Regions from separate parts of the Homo sapiens genome. Here regions 1 and 2 are each linked to region 3. Evidence: fine-mapped expression QTL. A gene starts in region 3. Each other region holds a variant in brackets. All regions are shown on one strand. Distances are between the middles of the regions. Region 1 overlaps MAN2A1 (mannosidase alpha class 2A member 1). Region 2 has its middle 34 kb from the start of MAN2A1. Region 3 holds the start of MAN2A1 (mannosidase alpha class 2A member 1).

Region 1 (5,833 bases), 180 kb after region 3:
TCATTTTGTTCACCTTGGAATCAACAGGTTTTGATATTTTCTCTTGGAAGATTTTATATCTTTTTGGGAATATGTAATATAAGATCTCTAATAAAAGATAATCTTATCATGTACATGGTCCTCTAGAGTAGTTCTTAATCCTATTTTGTAAACATGTATTAAAACATAATGAAGGGGTAGGGGGAGTAGTGAGGGTCTGTTCTTTGTTCCTTCATGATGGATTGGGTTTTTTTTTTTTTTTTTTTGGACACAGAGTCTCGCTCTGTCACCCAGGCTGGAGTGCAGTGGTGCAATCTCAGCTCACTGCAACCTCCGCCTCCTGGGTCCAAGCGATTCTCTGCCTCAGCCTCCCAAGTGGCTGGGATTACAGGCACCCACCACCACTCCTGGCTAATTTTTGTATTTTTAGTAGAGACAGGGTTTCACCATCTTGGCCAGGCTGGTCTTGAACTCCTGACCTCGTGATCCACCCACCTCAGCCTCCCAAAGTGCTGGGATTACAGGCGTGAGCCACCATGCCTGGCCTGGATTGCTCTTTCTTTAGTCCAGTTGTAGTTAGAAAATGTAGTTGTAGGGTGAAGATTGTAGATGGGTGGTGGTGAGTGTTACATCTGGGTTTGGAGGCACCTTTCAGCTTGAAGTCTAGGGACCTTCCTAGCACCTGTGCCCCACGGGGCCTTCTGAGCCCATTAGGAGGTAGGCAGATTGTGGTCAGATTCCATATATAAGCAGGACAAAGTTGTGGAGGGGAGTAAGCTCAGACATGAAGCTAAGAAGGTCCATGTGAGTTGATCTAGAAGGGAGGGTGGGTTGAAAGAGTCGGATCTGGAGGTACCCTCCAGCCTGCTGGCCCAGACTATTACACAGCTTCAATGACTTTAGAGGAGTCCCCTCAAAGCTGAGAGGCAGGCGCAGGTGGAGAGAATAAATATTCAGGGAGGTACACATGGGTTAGCTAGGTAAACAGTACATGTTAACTAGGAAATCTGCACTTGGTTTGGATAACTTATGCAGTAAAGAAATAATCCACTTAAGGCCGGGTGTGGTGCCTCACGCTTGTAATCCCAGGACTTTGGGAGGCTGAGGCATACAGATCACTTGAGGCCAGGAGTTTGAGACCAGCCTGGCTAACATGGTGAAACCCCATCTCTACTAAACATACAAAAATTAGCCGGGCATGGTGGCGGGCACCTGTAATCCCAGCTGCTTTGGAGGCTGAGGCAGGAGAATTGCTTGAACCCAGGACACGGAGGTTGCAGTGAGCTGAGACTGCGCCACTGCACTTCAGCCTGGGCAATAAGAGTGAAAATCTGTTTCAAAAAATAATAATAACCCAGTTATGTACACACAGGAGTGTAACAATCTGTAGAAGTTAGTAAAAATAGGTGTCATTGAGAAATAATGAGACTTGTCTTTGGCCCCATAAAATTAGATCATTAACATGTTAAAATAATTTGAGTATTAAAATTGGTAAAGAAAATTTAGGTGGGCATATGTTCACAATGCCTTTTACAAACCTTCGAATCAGACTAACAAAGGGCCGTTATGATGTTGAAAAGTTGGATCACAGGGGAGTTGAAAGAATTAGCAAGTACTCTGTTACTACCACATATCAAAGCAGAAAACAAACGTCTTAAGAGGTTGTAAAGGGCGAGATTTCTCCAATACACGCTAGATGAAGCAAAAATAGGAAATTGTAACTATCCAGTAACTAATGTTCAAGGTAGATAACACTCCAAATACAGCTATTGCCAGGTATGAGATGCCATCTAAGCTCTGTCTGGATCTCTCGGTTTTTCTTTCCCCTGAGTTGTCCTCATTCTTGGGCAAGGTCTGCCCATTGAATGGCAAAATGGCTGCCAGCAGGTCCAGACTGGCATCCAGACAGCTCAGAGACCTCAGTGGAAAGGGCACTTTTATCTACACTTTTGTCTAATTTTTTCAGCAAATGTCCTGGGATTAATGTCACTGGCTCTCATCTGGCTCATGTGCTAATGATTATGGCTAGGAGTATAGACTTAGGTTCAACTGAATCACATGGAGAAATGGATGAGAAGTAGTGCCCCACCCCCAACCCAAAGAAAATGGAGTTCTACAACCAGAGAAACAGGAGTTGGATGCTCAGACACTTTGGATACTAGGCAGGCAAAATACAGTAGGAATACATTGCAGAGGAAAACCAAGTGGAGATTGTGGATTTAAAGGAAGCTGAAAGCAACACCCAGTTTGAGTTTCAGGAAAGGTCTCATAGAAGAAGTGGACTTGAGATAATTAATTCTTAGAAGACGAATTTGATTTTAGCAGGTAGAGACAATATGTGTCCCCTGTTAAAAAAAAAAAAAAAAAAAAAAAAAAAAAGCGGGGCGGCGGGGGGAAGACATGATAACAGCAAATCCTAAAAAACTAGAAGTACTATCTTCTGTCTGAAGCAGTGCTGTGCTATAAAGTTTTCTTTGATCATGGAAATGTTGTTTATACTTGCTCTGTCCAGTGTGGTAGCTACTAGCCTCTTTTAGCTCTTAAATATTTGAAATCTGATTAGTGCAACTAAGGAACTGAGTATCTTAATTAAATGTAAATAGCAACACGTGGCTACTGTGTCTAGAGTGCATAGTTAC[A/G]TATAATACATTAGTAGAAAGTACAACTGAAAATACAAGTTAAGGCCACATTTTGCTAGAATCCTGCTAGTCAAAGTGTGGTCCTCATCCCAGAAGCATTGACATTGCCTGAAACGTGTTAGAAATGAAGCCTCACAAGTCCCACCCCGGACCTACTGAATTGGGATCTGCATTTTAACAAGATTCCCCCAAGAGTTCATGTGCTCATTAAAGCTGCCCTAGCACATTTTTCAAGAAGTCAGATCTCTGTCTTGTCAAACTTTTCTAAATAACTCTTAAGTCCCACCCTTACAATCTCTACTGCCTGAAAGCATCCCATAAAATCTGTGCACTTGTCCTAACACCAACCAATTACAAGCTATTTCCGGTCCTGCCCACTTCTAAAAAGTGACATTCAAAAATCTTCCTTGTTAAAAATCTTCTGTTTATTCTGGAAAAACGTAGACACATATTAACTTGGATTAACATAGAAACTTTTGCCATGGCCTAAAAGCCCTACCTGGCCTGGTCCCTGCCCTTCCGCGTATGTGAACTTTATTTTGTGTGTTGCTTAAAAATTTATTTCCTGACTCAAGCCAGTCTTGCCTTCTACCACTCTCCCTCTTACTGACAGTTGTCTAGGATTTTCTGGGTCTCTAGCTCGCCAAGATCATTCCTCTTAAGGGCCTTGCGCTTCCCTCTGCATCAAAGGCTCTGCTCTCAGACCTCCCTATGGCAGGCCTCCTCCTATCCTTCTCATCTTAGTTCAGTTGTCATCTTCTTAAGGCCCTCTTCTCTTGACCAGCCACATTATCAGAGTCCTACCTCCACTCCTTCACTGAGTTATCTCCTTTTTCTTACAGGAAGAGCCAAACCTGAAATTTTGTTGGTTTTACTTCCCCATTAGAATGTAAGCTCCTCTGAGGGCAAGAACTGCAGCCGTCTTGCATTGTATCCCCACGCTTGGAACAGCAGGGGTTCCATAAATATTTGTTCAATAAATGAATAGTGATTACCACCTGTAAATGTAGAGAAACAAGAATTATAATTTCAGAATAAAAGGCTGCAAAATCCCTTACATCTAAATATTTGTTTGTTCATGTTATTTCCCTGCTCAAAACTCTCAGGGAATTCCCATGGCCAGTAAAGAATGTATAAATTTTCAAGCTGTATTCCTAATCCCCTCAAAGGATATGACCTTGTGGAATATACTGAAAGTTATTATCAACCAAAATCTGCCCCTTCACCTTCTTCCTAACAAAACTCTGATTTTACTCTCAAGTATCAGGTAGCCGTGGGTCTCAGAGGGGGAATCGTGGCTGGTCTAAATCGATCATGATAATTTCCTTCTCCAGGCTGGATTATTGATTTAGGAATTGATATGTGATACAATTCTGGCCAATCCAATGACCTATCATGGAAATTAGTTGGGAGCTTCTGGGACAAGCCTCTTTTCTCCCTCTTAAAAAGGGGAGAGCATCTTACTCTCGCATGACCGTGTTCAAAGACAGCATTGGGTAAGTGTTGATGCTGGAGCTGCTGCAGCCATTTTGTAACCCTGCAGGGAAAGCCTGAGGACAGAAGTCAACTGGATAAGTAGAGCCTTGGTCCCTGATGATGCTGAGCTGGTGAATGAACCAATTCCAATTTTCTCGTTGTATGAAGTAATAACTCACTTGAGTATTTGGAGTTTAGTGTTACGTGACAAAGAGCTAAAAGCATTTAAACCAATGCTCTTGGGTGTCACCACTGCCCCAGCACCACGCTCTTACTTATGTAGATGCTTTGCTGAATGAGTACATGTGGACTTGAGTGACTAAGTCCACTCAAGTGCACTTGATTGCAGTCAGTCCCTTGGAACATGGCCTCTTACTTTGTCTCTCCTCCCCTCACCCCTCGCACATTCTGCTCAAAAATTTTAATAAACTGCACTTTATTACACTGCAGTATCTTTTTTCAAACATAAGGTGTGTAGACGGGTTTTTAAAAATGCAAAGTGAACTAAGCATGTGGGTACTAGGGAAATGCCTGAAGATTTTAGAGTTCCTTTAGCATATACTCTGAGAGTGTTTTAATTCAGATGTGGAATTGGGGCTGGCTCCTGTGTGGCAAGATGACCCTTCCAAATGTCAACCAAAAACTGGAGGTAGAGGGGAAGAATAAGTAAAAGGGGCTGAGGTGGGAGCAATGAGTCAGTGGCATCTAGTTTCTTTGAAGTATGTCAAGTAACTCTTTCAAGTACTTTGAGACTTTTTCAAACATCATTGAGAAGCCGTCTGTGAATTTCTAAATCTACAAAGGAGGGAAATTGTAACACTGCTATTTAAAAAGGCCTTTTTTTTTTTTTTTCAAATTTATTGTTTAGATTGACATTGTAGAAGGGCCTATTTTACGGGCTTTACATGTAGACTTGAGTTCTTGGCTCCCAGTTTTTTAAATTCACAGTTTAGCCTTAGGACTCATTTTCTGATCTCAGAGCTAAATGACAGTGCTAGCAAGCAAGATGTACCTATAGGGTCTGGATGTGTGAAACACCAGTAAAATAAAATGGAACCCTCACCGGTTGGCTTTCAAAGCTTGATCTGAAGTTGAGGGTAGGTCTTTGTTTGGTCTGAAACTCCCTCCTAGAACTGGAGACTCAGAGCCTTTGTGTTTCTTGGGATGGATTTTTCAGCCATATGCAGGACTGAAATAATTTCGGACCAGCTATATGGAAGTGAGTGTTCCAGAAAAATCATGTGAGTCATTCATTCACGTATTCATCTTCCTAAATGAATTTTCTAAGTGCAGGTAATAAGATTACTTTGAGGTTAAAATATATTTTCTTAAGTAAAATCTGCAAATTCATCCTTACGGAATTTGTGGGGTACCTTTAAGAGGAGCCTGAAGGCAATCGGTTTTCACTTTTGCATTGTGCCATCAATGAACATTAACTGAATTTATCATTTAAGCAGGGCAGTTGTGCCAGGCTCTGAGAGAGGGGGATTCTAATAATCCTGCCCTCCTATTAGTAAGGGAGATAAATCCCAGTGCAGTTAAGGTGCCAGAAGATGAGAGCAAGAGGGTCACATTAGTGGCACAAATGACAAATCCTCTGGGAGTACAGAGGAAGGAGACTTTCCTTCCATCTGGAATGATGAGGAGGGAAGGCAAGGAGGTAGGAGAATTAGAGCTGAGCCTGAAGGATAAGTGTATCACCAACTGGGTGTGTGAGAGGAGGGTGACTTGAAACCAAC
Region 2 (5,833 bases), 34 kb before region 3:
TTTTTTTACACAGTGTGTGCTAGTTGTTCTGATCTTTGCCAAAATGTCAAAAAGTCAAGGCCTCTTCCCTCCTTGCTCCTATTTGCCTATTTAGAAGTTCCCATGGTTAATTGCCTCCTCGCCTACGACTTCTATCGTTCTTTTATTCCTGGAACTAGAGTTCACTATCCACTGTATTGCCCCCTTGCTCACTCATATCCTATAGGATATATTCTAATAAGGTTAGGAAGAAAGAATAAAGGAATTTTAGCTTTTCAGAAAACCTGGTTTCTAGTCTCAATTCAGCCACATGATATCCTTGTGACCTCAGAGAACACACGGCCTCTCAGATCCACAGTGCCTTCATGTGTAAGTGAAAATGTTGTTACTGCTATGCTCACCTCAGGTGGGCTCCCGAGGATCAAAGGAGTTGGTGCATGTGACAGGGCTTTCTAGACTATAAAGTGCTCCACAAATGTTAGTTCTTGTTAAAAGTAGACAGACGCAATGAAGTATCATTGACTTCAGAAACAACAAGAGTTAGTTGAAATCTACCTCTATGATTGTAAGCAAAACTCACCTTTCCTGAATTTCTGTTTCTTCATCCTCAAAACAGAAATAATACCCACTAACACTCAGGGTTGTCAGAGTTCAGTGACACAATGTCAACAAAGGGCCTGACTAGCACAGTTTCCCAGTAACCTCTTCTCTTCTCTGATTTCCTGGCTCAAATGTCTTTGGGATGATATTATCATCATTGTTATTGGTCCATCCTTAAGTTTCCCCTGTCCTCAAGAAAGTATATTTATATATTATTATTGGTTATGTGCAGGCTCTGGAGTAGGACTATCTGGCTTTAATCCTGGCTCTGCACTTGCTAATGCTGTGTTCTTGAGCAAGTCACTGTGCTTCTCTTGGCCTCTGTTATCTTTTATAGGGAACAGTACCTCCCTGAAGTGACAAACCATCCCAGTTTGTCTGTGACAGGACTTTCAGTGCTGAAATCAGGAAAGTCCTAAGCAAACAGGGATGAGCTGGTGACCCTATTACCTACCTCACAGGTTTTTTAACGAGGATGAAAGGAGTTATAAATGTGAAGTGCTTAGAACAACACCTGCAGTTAGTATTACATCTCACTATTATTTCTCCAGAAACAGTCCTTTGGTCCAAAAATTGAATAGTGGGTTTAAGGGCACAGGGACAAATCACAGCAGAGACAGAGAGGCCTCCTCAGAATCACTCATCCAAGCCCAGGCACAGCCACCTCCCCGGGGCCTGCTGCTGACACTGTTCTGAATCATCCTCTGCTTTCCAGGGTCATACGCAGAGGGGAACCACCGCAACTGCCATCCTTGTCTACAGCTACGACTGTCCTTCTGGTCACTTTGAACCTGCTGCCCGAAGGGAAGAGAGGGGATGAAGAAAAAAAAAAACCTACCTCATTGTTTGATACTTCTTGTGAGGATTGACGAAGCCCTAGAGGGTGAGGGGAGGTGAGGCCAGGGTTGAGCTTCAAATCCCTGACTTCCCTATCCTGCCTCTGAACAGGCTCCAGTGGGGGCCATGAAGTATATTTCTGATGCTGTATATTGCACATGATTGAGGGAACTTGACATATTAATTCTGTGCTTCTCCCTGGGTCTGAAATAGCACTGCCTGGAGTCCAGTCCTGCATCTGCCTCTGCTAGGTAGGTGACCTTGGAATTGTTATTTAACTTCTCAGTTCTTTCATCTGTAACACAGGGAATAGTAAAAACAGGACCAACACCATAAAAGTGTTGTGTTATATGAGATAATTCATGTCAGGAAATTTTCTCAGAGCCTGGCCTAGTATGGCAAACTAGGTGAAACTATAGTAAATTATATATAGGCACTGAGGGGAAATGAATATGTGTTTTGTTGGTATGCCTACATTTCCAAATATTAACATCTTCCTTTTAGATAACTTACATATAAAATTTATTCACTCATTTTTACCATCCCTTTGAAATTAGAATGTTAAAATTATGACAATATTTTTCCAGGCCTAATGTTGAAATGGAAATCCTGTGTGGTTTCTATGCTTTGTTAAGAGTTTGCTCATTGTCAATAACCAATAAGAATTTAAAATCTGAGCTTTCAAAAACTGGTTCCAGAAATTAGGTTTTAGTGTGTCATCAGTTCTACCAGAAAGAATGCCAGGAATAAACATCAGACAATAAAGTTATATCTTGCATGTTTAATTGCTTGCATGTTTACCAAAATCACTCTTTTCATAACAATGAAATTCTTGCTCTTCTCCCTTATGAGTGTTTCCAAAGCAGTTTTAATTGTGACAAGGCAATCAAACAATGTCCTAAGTTCCTCGTTCTATTTTCCCTACCTTAATGCTTTTCTGGGTTTGATTCCTTCATACTCCCTGGTATATTTCCATGCAGATGATCTTATGTTTGGAAGCACAAAACAAGGCAAGGCTTTTGCCTTTAGACATGCTGTTGCTGCCAGAATCCCCTGTGAGCTCCCTTTTCCATTGTTTCCAAGCATAATAACAGGATCACCCAAGGGTCTTTATTAAAGCATTGGGGCCAAGATTGTACCACCAAAAACAGCCCTCTGGACTCACTTTTTTATACAATCTGGCTCCTCTATAACAAGCTTTCAGGTTATGTCGGTGATATGACTCACAAAGGGAAAGAATCTTCTGGCCTCCTGATGCACTGTCTTCCCAGAGTTAACTGATGTGCAGTGTGAATCCAGTGTTTCAGCATACATAACATAAAATGAAAAGGATTATATATAGTGAGCATTGCCAAACTGTACTGTCTGAGTAAGTGCAGGCCAACATACCCTTTAAAGGTAATTTGAACAATTATTTCCATTTCTGCTACATCTCCGAATTTCCCCTATCCTTATAGAATTCAGCCTGCAAATTGAAGGTCAAAGAATGTTCATCTCTGAATTTTATGGCATCTAAGTTTAAAAAACTGCACCCGTTCATCAAACTTTAGACCAAAAATCTATGTGTACTACCCTGTGTAAATTAAACCTCATTTTAGAAATGGGGTGAGGTGTTGATGGGGAGGAATGCCCAAAGATCAAGTAATTCAGAACCTCTTGGTGGTGGGGCCTGGATATGGGTATATTTTCAAAACTCTCCAGGTGACTCTAATACACAATTGGCAGGAATACCCTATGATAAAGGAAAATTGAGAGTGGTTTAGGTTCAGGGTTTGGGCACTCCTGCAATATCTGGACGTATCTATGTCTCCTAGCACTGAACTCCTACCATCAACCTCAATTAGTATGCTACAGAAACTTCAGTAATGCCATTGCCTTTTAAGCTGGTTGCCACCCTTCTGACCCTTTCCATCTAGACCATCTAGAAATTTTATTAGGTATGCTTTTGTGAAGGGTATTTATGAAGTGGCAATGACCCCAGACTCTCTCCTCCTTTCATGGCCAGAATAAACATTGGCCTTACTATAAAAAGAAATGCATGAAAAAACTGAGCTTACTCAGGGAGTAAAATTATTATTTGAATTACAGCAAAACAAGTTTGACTCTTTTTCTTGCCTTGCTTCTCTTTTCGTGTCGCCATGGGAGCACTTCCACATGACACATTTAGACCTAAGAAGGAACTGCCAGTTTCAC[A/G]CAAGAAGGAATGAACATGTTCACCGCAAACCACAGGAAGCATGACTGGCAGCTTCCTGGGCCAACCCAGAAATGTGGCTTGCACCAGGAATGATGGAATAGATTGTATCTCTTCCTTCTGTCATGCTTTTGTACTCTACTGGCAGAATTTTTTTTTGAAAAATGACATTCTTTATCCCATGTCCTTGATCAGAATGTTCCAGTAGAACTGCCGGTTGCAGAAAAAACTGTAATCTTCACAGTTCACCACTAAATGGTCTTACTCCTCGAGCCCAAAGCTACTAGTTCTAGCCTGATTTTCCACTACTTGTCTGCACTATTTCTTGCTGTTCCTCAAGTGAGTTCTTCTCTCTCCCACCCCACTTCTTTCCCTGTGCCTTATTCCTGGAATACCTTCTCTCCAAACCTCACTTCTCTTTCCAGCCTTGGTGTCCCCGACCACATCAGCATAGGCCTTCTCCTTTCCTGAAAGTTTGAGCCTGTATTCCTGCCAGACTGAGCATGAGCTTTGGACTCAGAGAGATCCACTTTAAAATCCTATGACCTTCAGGAAGTTCTTTCATTTTTTATCTTTAAAAAAAGGGGATGATAATAATACTCCTGGGGGTGGATTGCTGTAAGAATTATATGAGATCACATGTGAATGCACTTAGATGATCAATACATATTTGCCTTCCCTTTACCACTCAAATAGCATTGCTTTCTACTGTGGGTTTTTGAAAGCACATCTTACTGTCTCTATCAAAGCCTAGGGTCCTTGAAAGCAAGGGTTTTTTTTTTTTTTAAAAAATAACTTCTTTGAATACTCTCTAACACTAAGAAGAGTGCCTTGCATGTAGAAAGTACTCCACAAATATTTTTGATGGCTGAATAAATAAATAAATGAATTTTCTGGCTCTCTGTTGGATAAAAGATAATGGCATGGAGGGGGATATGATGGAGAGAGCCAGTTTACTTAAAATATAGTGCCTTGACAAAATGTTGTAACAATTAGCATCAATGATAATTATGGAAAACATATTAAATAACTTATCCGGTTATATACTAACCTATTTAGGCTTCCTGGGCAAAAAGAAATGTTGAATGTTCCATACAACAGCAAAGAGGTACTCAGGATCACACAAAAATAAATTCATTGACATTTGATGTTCTTATGCTTACAATGTAAAGAATAAAATGGGTTCTTGTCGTTTCCTTTTTAAAAACTTCCCTTTAATAAACTACCCACGACTGTGTGGTCCAGATGGTTGTTTGGTATATCAGTGTGAAATAATGCTTTACATTCTGTGAGAATAGAGAGGAAGCACACAAAGGGATGCCTTATGGACAATCCAGGCAGAGATAGTGCCTCTCTCGCAATAGGGACACACTTTTTTTTTTTTTTTAAAGATTCTGTATATAGAAAGGTTATTGCTTCATTATGAGGTGAACTGTTTGACAAAGAGATGATGCCAGAGAGTTCATATTCCTTAGGAGGAGACATCTTAGTCCTCTCTCCAGAGAGAAAGAAAAAAGAATTAGATGCGATGTTTTTGAGTATTTACTGCCAATGCTGCTAAAAAAGCACTCATAGTCTTATTAGATGACACAAGAATAGACTCAGTTTTATATTGCAAGGTAGAAATGGGTCATTTATTGATGTTTAAGATCCATCAAGACTTGCAGGTAAATTGAGACTCTTGACAGATGACCTTGAAACAAAACAGTGCAATATGATATTTCTCTACCACCAGAAAAAAAGACATTTTTGACAGCTGAGAAATAGTGGCCAGATCTTGAAGTCATTTTTATCCCTCTTAGAGGAATTTGAAATATAAAACTTAGGACAGAGGTCACATCTTTGCTAGGCTCTTCAAGAGCTTAAAGTAATATCAAGATCCCACAGATAAACAATGACTTCTAATCATTATGTTTTTAAGGAAAAATATGTGATAGGATTTAGTGAGAAGTAAATTTATACCATGTTTTAACAAATGCCTCATCATTTTATATGTTTACTCAGTTGTGCCTACATTTTCATATCTAATACTGATGGAAAAATATAGGTTAATGTAAAAGTAGTTGATGTAAATGCATGATAATAGTACCATGGTTATCTCCTCACCTAGTAGTCTTTTGGGTAATAAGTATGACCAACATTAAACAATGCTACAGTTTATTAGAACCTTCAGAAATTTTAAAATCTGGAGTATTCTTTCAGGTCTCATAAAACTATTTCAAAAGG
Region 3 (5,833 bases):
CAAGCAAGGCTAGTCTCTTTAGACACTGGAGGGCAACCTACTTCCACTGATAAGAGAAAGAGTTGGCGTGTTTAAGATTGTCGGTTTCATCTGGGTCCAACCCATTTCAAGTATTGAGATTCTATTATTAAAAAATAACACCATTTTACACGAAAAACTCAGAATATGTGTGAATTTAATAGCAGTTATAATTCAGTAACATGAAAATTAAAATTTTGTTTGATTCTCAGCATAATTCTTGTTGCTACAATAAACCAGAGCTTTTGGAATTCTGCAGAATATCTCTGGTTCTCATACCATAACTCTGAGAGTTAAAAAACCTGTGCTTGTCATTTCTCTTTATAACCACTCAAAAGCACGCAAAAGAATCCATCCCACACCAGTCTTTCTAGTCATCTTTATAACCATAGCAGTCAAGTGTAGCAGCCACTTGGGGCCCCAAGGCACAGGCTTCAGTTGGCACTTCATCAGGATCAACCACAGGTAATTGCTTAATTGAGATGCCCAGCATGTCATGAATTACATTTCCCTTTGGCAAGGAGCTAAAGCTCAAAACCTCAATCAAACTGACCTTTAATCCCATCTTTGCAGGTCTATTTCTTGGGACTACTCCCGGGACAGGGAAGGCTTAATAAAAAGAATTGTTAACTATAATAGAGGATTAGAGTAATGAAGGATTCACTAGCAAGAAGAGAACTTTAAAGAATATAGCAACAGCAGCTATAAGGAGCTAACCTTATAACTAACTCTTGGGTTGAGAGACAGAGTGCCCAATGAAGAACCTCCCCAATTCCTCCCAGGGCTAAGATCTAGACGTTTTTGGAGAGGGCATGACCTGGCTCACTGAATGGCAGAGAAGTCACCATTGGGCTACGTCTGCAAAGCTTGTGGAAGATGTGCCCTCTGCAACTTGCTGCAAATGCCTCTAGGGTGCCAGGGAAGTTATTCATGGGGTAGTGTCTCACCTCCTCTACAAAGCTCCTAGAGTTGGGCATGTGAGAGGAAATTGCTAGTTACTGAGCACTATAGGACCTTGGCAGTGGAGAAAGCCAGGTATGCTGCAAAAGCTTATCAATACACAGAAATCAGGAAGCAAAATCCTTTTTTTCTGTAATGTCTCTTCAGCGCCCTCTGCTGATAAAGCTTCAGTCCCAGAAGGCAAACGAAAAACTGTTTAAAAGGCTCAGATCCGTTTTTACAGTGCAGTCAAAAAGGGCGAATTTGGAGCTGAGAGGCAATAAATCAATAACTGGCAGAAGCATCACTTCTCAGATTACACTCATGGATTTCGTAGTCAGATGTTTCTACATGTGCCTGGACGGCCCTTTGTCAGTCTCCTTTCCCCCAGGTTTTAACAGGCTGTCACCAAAGGAGGAAATAGTGAGCCCGAAGAGAATGTGCAAGCCCTCTTCTCTTGCATTTCCTCCAGCCCGTCACCAAGTACTCTTCCAGGCACGCCAGGCCCGAGTGTCCTAGGATAGGAAACCTGAGCAACAAAGGGAAGTGGGGTGTAAGCTCAACCCCTGTTGGACGTGGGGGTGCTGGCGCCTGAACGCCCCCGAAGGCCTCAACTCCCAGAAAGCTGCCTGCCAGGTCACAAGAGCCCTGTGAGGTCTTCCTATCGCCGGGACACTGGGAGGCAGGCGCGGGGCGGGTCCGCCGGGCGACGCGCTGTGATTGGGCGCCGTGGGGCCCGCCCCCTCATCTCGGAGCGTCGGGAGGGGGCGGGGCCAGCCGCCCGCTCGGCTCAGGCGCTGCGGGCGCCTATTGACCCAGCGGCTGCTGCGCCGCCGCTGTCTCCTCCTGCTCGTGGCGGGCGGTGCTGGAGCGCCAAGTGGCGCTGGAGAACCGGCGCTTCCTTTCGCCGCTTCCGCCGCCATCTCCGCGTTTGTGGGGCGGGAAAGAGGGAGGGGGCTAGCGGCTGCAGCTGGAGCGGGCTTCTCTCCGGGGACGGTCCTTTCCTCCCTGCTCTCCTTTTCCTTCTTTCCGCGTTGCCGCCGCCCGCCCCCTGCGCCTCCCCGCGGAGCCTGGGTCCGGGAGGGGGAAGGTAGGGGCGGCGGGGGGCGGGAGAGTCTGGCGAGCGGACGCTAGCTCTGAGGAAACTCATCAATCCGTGAGCCCCGGAGTCCGGGGTGCACATCGGCCCAGCCGCAGCGTCGGCGGCGGCGGCGGCAGCAGCACGAAGGGGCTCAGTCGGGGTAGGCGGGGGCGGTGCCGGTGCCGCGGGGGCGGGCCCGACCGTCCCGCCCAGAAGTTGTAGGGCTTGGCTCCTCGCGATCTTGTTCCTTTCCCCTCCGCTTCTCTGACCTAGCTGCGCGGCCCCGGCCCGGGAGCTGCCGAACCCGCGCCTCCCCTGGGTGAGGAGGACACGCCTGCCCTCGTCGAGAAAACTTTTCCTGCCGACTCAGTTGGGGCGGCGGTGGCAGGAAGTGCGGGCAGCGACCTCTCCTCCGCCTGCCCCGCGCGCCCTGCCGGAGGTCGGCGCTGAGCTTGCGATCAAGTTTGTGGGGGCCCCCCTTCCCAGTTGCCGGCGAGTCTCGCCTCGAGAGGGGCGCCCGACCCCGGGGAGGGCGGCAGGCCAGGGCGAAGGCCAAGGGCGTGTGGTGGCGCCGGAGACTAGGTGCGGAGCAAGGCGGGGACTCGCACCCGCATCCGAGAGCGCGGAGGTCGCGCAGCCCGGGAGAAGGGAGCCTCCGGCGGCTGCTTCCTAGAGTCCACAGTGCGCTGTCTCCTTTGGCTGAGGAGAGTGTCCTGGCCCCGAGTCTATCGAGGAAAATGAAGTTAAGCCGCCAGTTCACCGTGTTCGGCAGTGCGATCTTCTGTGTGGTGATTTTCTCGCTCTACCTGATGCTGGACCGGGGTCACTTAGACTACCCCAGGAACCCGCGCCGCGAGGGCTCCTTCCCTCAGGTAAGCACCTGGGAAGGGGGCGCGGGGCTCCGAGGGGCCAGGCGTGCGGGCCCCTGGTTAGCGGCTGCTACCCAACCTCTTCCTCCCGCCGCGGCCCCACACCCGTGCTGGGCGAGGCCAGGGGCTCTGTAGCTCTCGGACGGCAATGATCACCTCCTGGGAGCCACCTCGCCCGGGCGCGCCAAGTTAACAAAGTGCTGGGCGGCGTGCGGCGGCGGCGGCGGCATCATCCCGCTCAGGAAAGTGGCCATGTTCCGGCATTCGCACCCGGCCTGTTGGGGTGGCTTCGGGCACCTGCTGGCGGGGGAACGGGCGCGGCGTGAGGCACCCCCCGCCAGCCCGGGGCCCGCGTATCCCGGTGGGGTCGTTCTCGGCTCTCACAGGGTTAAGCCGCCCGCACCAGCCCAGAGCCCCTGAGCGCACGGAGTCGCGGAAATGGATCAAACCGAACCCACCTAGGCTTTTTTTTCTTTTTCTTCCCCGCTGCCTCTGAAGAGAGAGAAGTTTATTTCGTGTTGCGGCCCTTTTAGATGTGAATCTCTAGGTTGATTTTAGTGTCGTCATTCTTCAGCTATTACATCTGGTTTGTTTGTGGCAGACAGGGGGAACCGAGTGGGGAAGCGCGTGTTATACTCCGGCCGAAAGCTGTGGGGCGCTCAGTCCTGCGTCCAGTGGTTAAATTGGTAAATGAGTTGGGAAGACGACCCATCCAAAGTCTTATTTAAAGTTACCAAAAATAAGCAAAGCGGACACAGTCTGTTCCCTTTGGAAGGGTATCCACCGCGCGGCATGTGCGAGTTCAGTTTCAAGTTACTTGCCAATATAACCCGTGCACTTCAGAAATTGCGGTGAAACTGGGTATTGTGTAGTGTGTAGTGTGCTCTGTAACGAATGAACCTGAAGAACTCAAACCCTGACAGGGCAATCTAACTATTCCTACTTGACTTACGAGAAAGAGAAGCCTAGACGTGAAGTTGATATATATTTTTTTCTCTTTTGTGATAACTTAAATGACCAAAGAATATCCTTGCCATTTTTTTTGTGTTATGCTAGAGCAAATGGCTTGAATTTAATTGAGATTAAAGTAAAAACTTTACTGGAATTATTGTGAAAGTGAAAAAAGACCCTTTTATGGATGCTGTCATCAATACAGAGCACTCAACATGTTTTGTCGGTGAGAGGTTTTAAAAATCTTGCTGCAGAGAGATGTATCAAAATTTTAAAAGCCTCTGCTTCCCCTAGGTAGTATGACAGAGAAAATAGAAACAAGCACTGAGGGCATCTTTAAATCTTGAGCTCAGAGCTTGTCCAGTGCTTCTTGATGAGGTTGAAGAAAACAGTTGGAAAAAGGTAAGGAGTTTTAAGCTTAGCTTGATATGTTGTGTAATTTTGGGGTTGAAATTACTGTAATTTTTTTCCCTCCAGTAACCTCATTTTCAGATTTTCCTCCATTACAGGAAAATCATAAAAAGTGATATTTTTACTTAAAGTGTTTTCTAAAATAATGTCCTTTGGCTTTGGCTTGATGATCACTTGAAAATGGTTTATGCAAACATCTGGACCTGGGTTTTCTGGCAACCTTGACATTTTCTCTGTTCAGAATCTAAAGACATGAGTGACTCATTCAGTTACTGAGAAATCTTAGGCAAAGCTAATTCCAGTATTGTAATATCTATCCTTAGTCCTCAATGAGAGGCTGAAGTTCTGCTTTAAGCGTAAAGCATTTGATGAAAGGTCAAAGTGGCTGCTGGAGGGGAAGGCTGTTGGTACTCAACTGGGAGGTGGAACATTTTGCATTTAAGATTGCCTTTCTCAGATTTTCTGTACTGGATTTTCACTGCAGAAAGAAGGTATTCTTTAAGTGCTTGGACGGCCACTGAATCCTCAAGCAGATAGACATTCTAAGACCCCTCTGTAAGCTTAACCGTTATGTGTGTGACATTAGCCTTCGTATCTTACAGGGTAAAACTTAAGTGGCGAGGGGACTGAGGCACTGAGGCACGGAGAGATTAATTAGCTTGCCCAAGATCACACAGCTGCAAGCTGAGATTTGAACAGGTAGCCTTTGTAGCCCAGGCTCCCAGCCACTGAGTTGTCTTGCCTCTTAGGAATCTGTTGCCTACTGTTTAGGCTGCCATTTGCTTATGGAAAGATCTGATGTAAAATATAGAGCAGTGATCCTCAACCTTTTTGGTACCAGGGACTGGTTTCCTGGAAGACAGTTTTTCCACAGACAGGGGTGGGGATGGGGGGAGTCGGGGGTTTCGGGGGATGGTTTGGGGATGAAGCTGTTCCACCTCAGATCATCAGGCGTTAGATTCTCATAAGGACCATGCAGCCTAGATCCCTGGCATGCGCAGTTCACAATAAGGTTCGTGCTCCTATGAGAATCTAATGCTGCTGCTGATCTGACAGGAGGTGGAGCTCAGGCGGTAATGCTTGCTGACCTGCTATGCCACTCACCTCCTGCTGTGTGGCCTGGTTCCTAACAGGTCCATGGCCCTGGGGTTGGTTGCCCCCTGTATAGAGCATGTTGCTCTCTGGTACCTTAGCTTATGACTAAAGGAACTTTTATTTTGAAGCCATAATGAATATGGTCCTTTTTCTGAAACATTTACTGCTAGAGATTTATACCCTTCCCAGAATGTCTTTGAGCTCATTTCAGAGCTAAACATTATAATGAAAACCATTGTGTAGTCCAGCATCCAGAACTTGAGTTGATTCTTTTTTTTTTCACTGCTTCTAACTTATTCTTAATAATACCAAACATAGCAAAAGGAGGTTGCAATACATTTGTTTGGCAAGTTTGGGTATTGAATTCTTGAGTTTTAGTAGAGCCAAGCAGGTCGGTCACTATGTGTCATTTTTTGGTATCTAGTAGAACGGTTTATTTAGATAGGTATTGGGTTCCTCTAAATTGCCC

Evidence for each region.
Region 1: its variant is fine-mapped to the expression of MAN2A1 in whole blood (TOPMed, PIP 0.98).
Region 2: its variant is fine-mapped to the expression of MAN2A1 in monocytes after Pam3CSK4 (Quach 2016, PIP 0.95). The same link has a PIP of 0.9 or more in monocytes and monocytes after LPS.

What each region holds. Positions count from the first base shown.
Region 1 is chr5:109,869,513-109,875,345 of GRCh38, forward strand. It overlaps MAN2A1 (mannosidase alpha class 2A member 1), which reads left to right. Exons shown (of 22, transcript NM_002372.4): 22 at 1-113. Among named protein-coding and RNA genes, the nearest start is that of LINC01848, 11 kb to the right of the region's middle. The variant A/G (reference allele first, on the strand shown) is at 2,619.
Region 2 is chr5:109,653,377-109,659,209 of GRCh38, forward strand. No RefSeq gene overlaps it. Among named protein-coding and RNA genes, the nearest start is that of MAN2A1, 34 kb to the right of the region's middle. The variant A/G (reference allele first, on the strand shown) is at 3,610.
Region 3 is chr5:109,687,643-109,693,475 of GRCh38, forward strand. MAN2A1 (mannosidase alpha class 2A member 1) reads left to right here and starts at 2,285. Exons shown (of 22, transcript NM_002372.4): 1 at 2,285-2,910. The coding sequence starts at 2,776. MAN2A1-DT (MAN2A1 divergent transcript) reads right to left here and starts at 3,457. Exons shown (of 1, transcript NR_186543.1): 1 at 159-3,457. RefSeq lists enhancers at 941-1,609, 1,369-1,468 and silencers at 1,579-1,868, 1,879-2,398, 2,429-2,638, 3,049-3,148.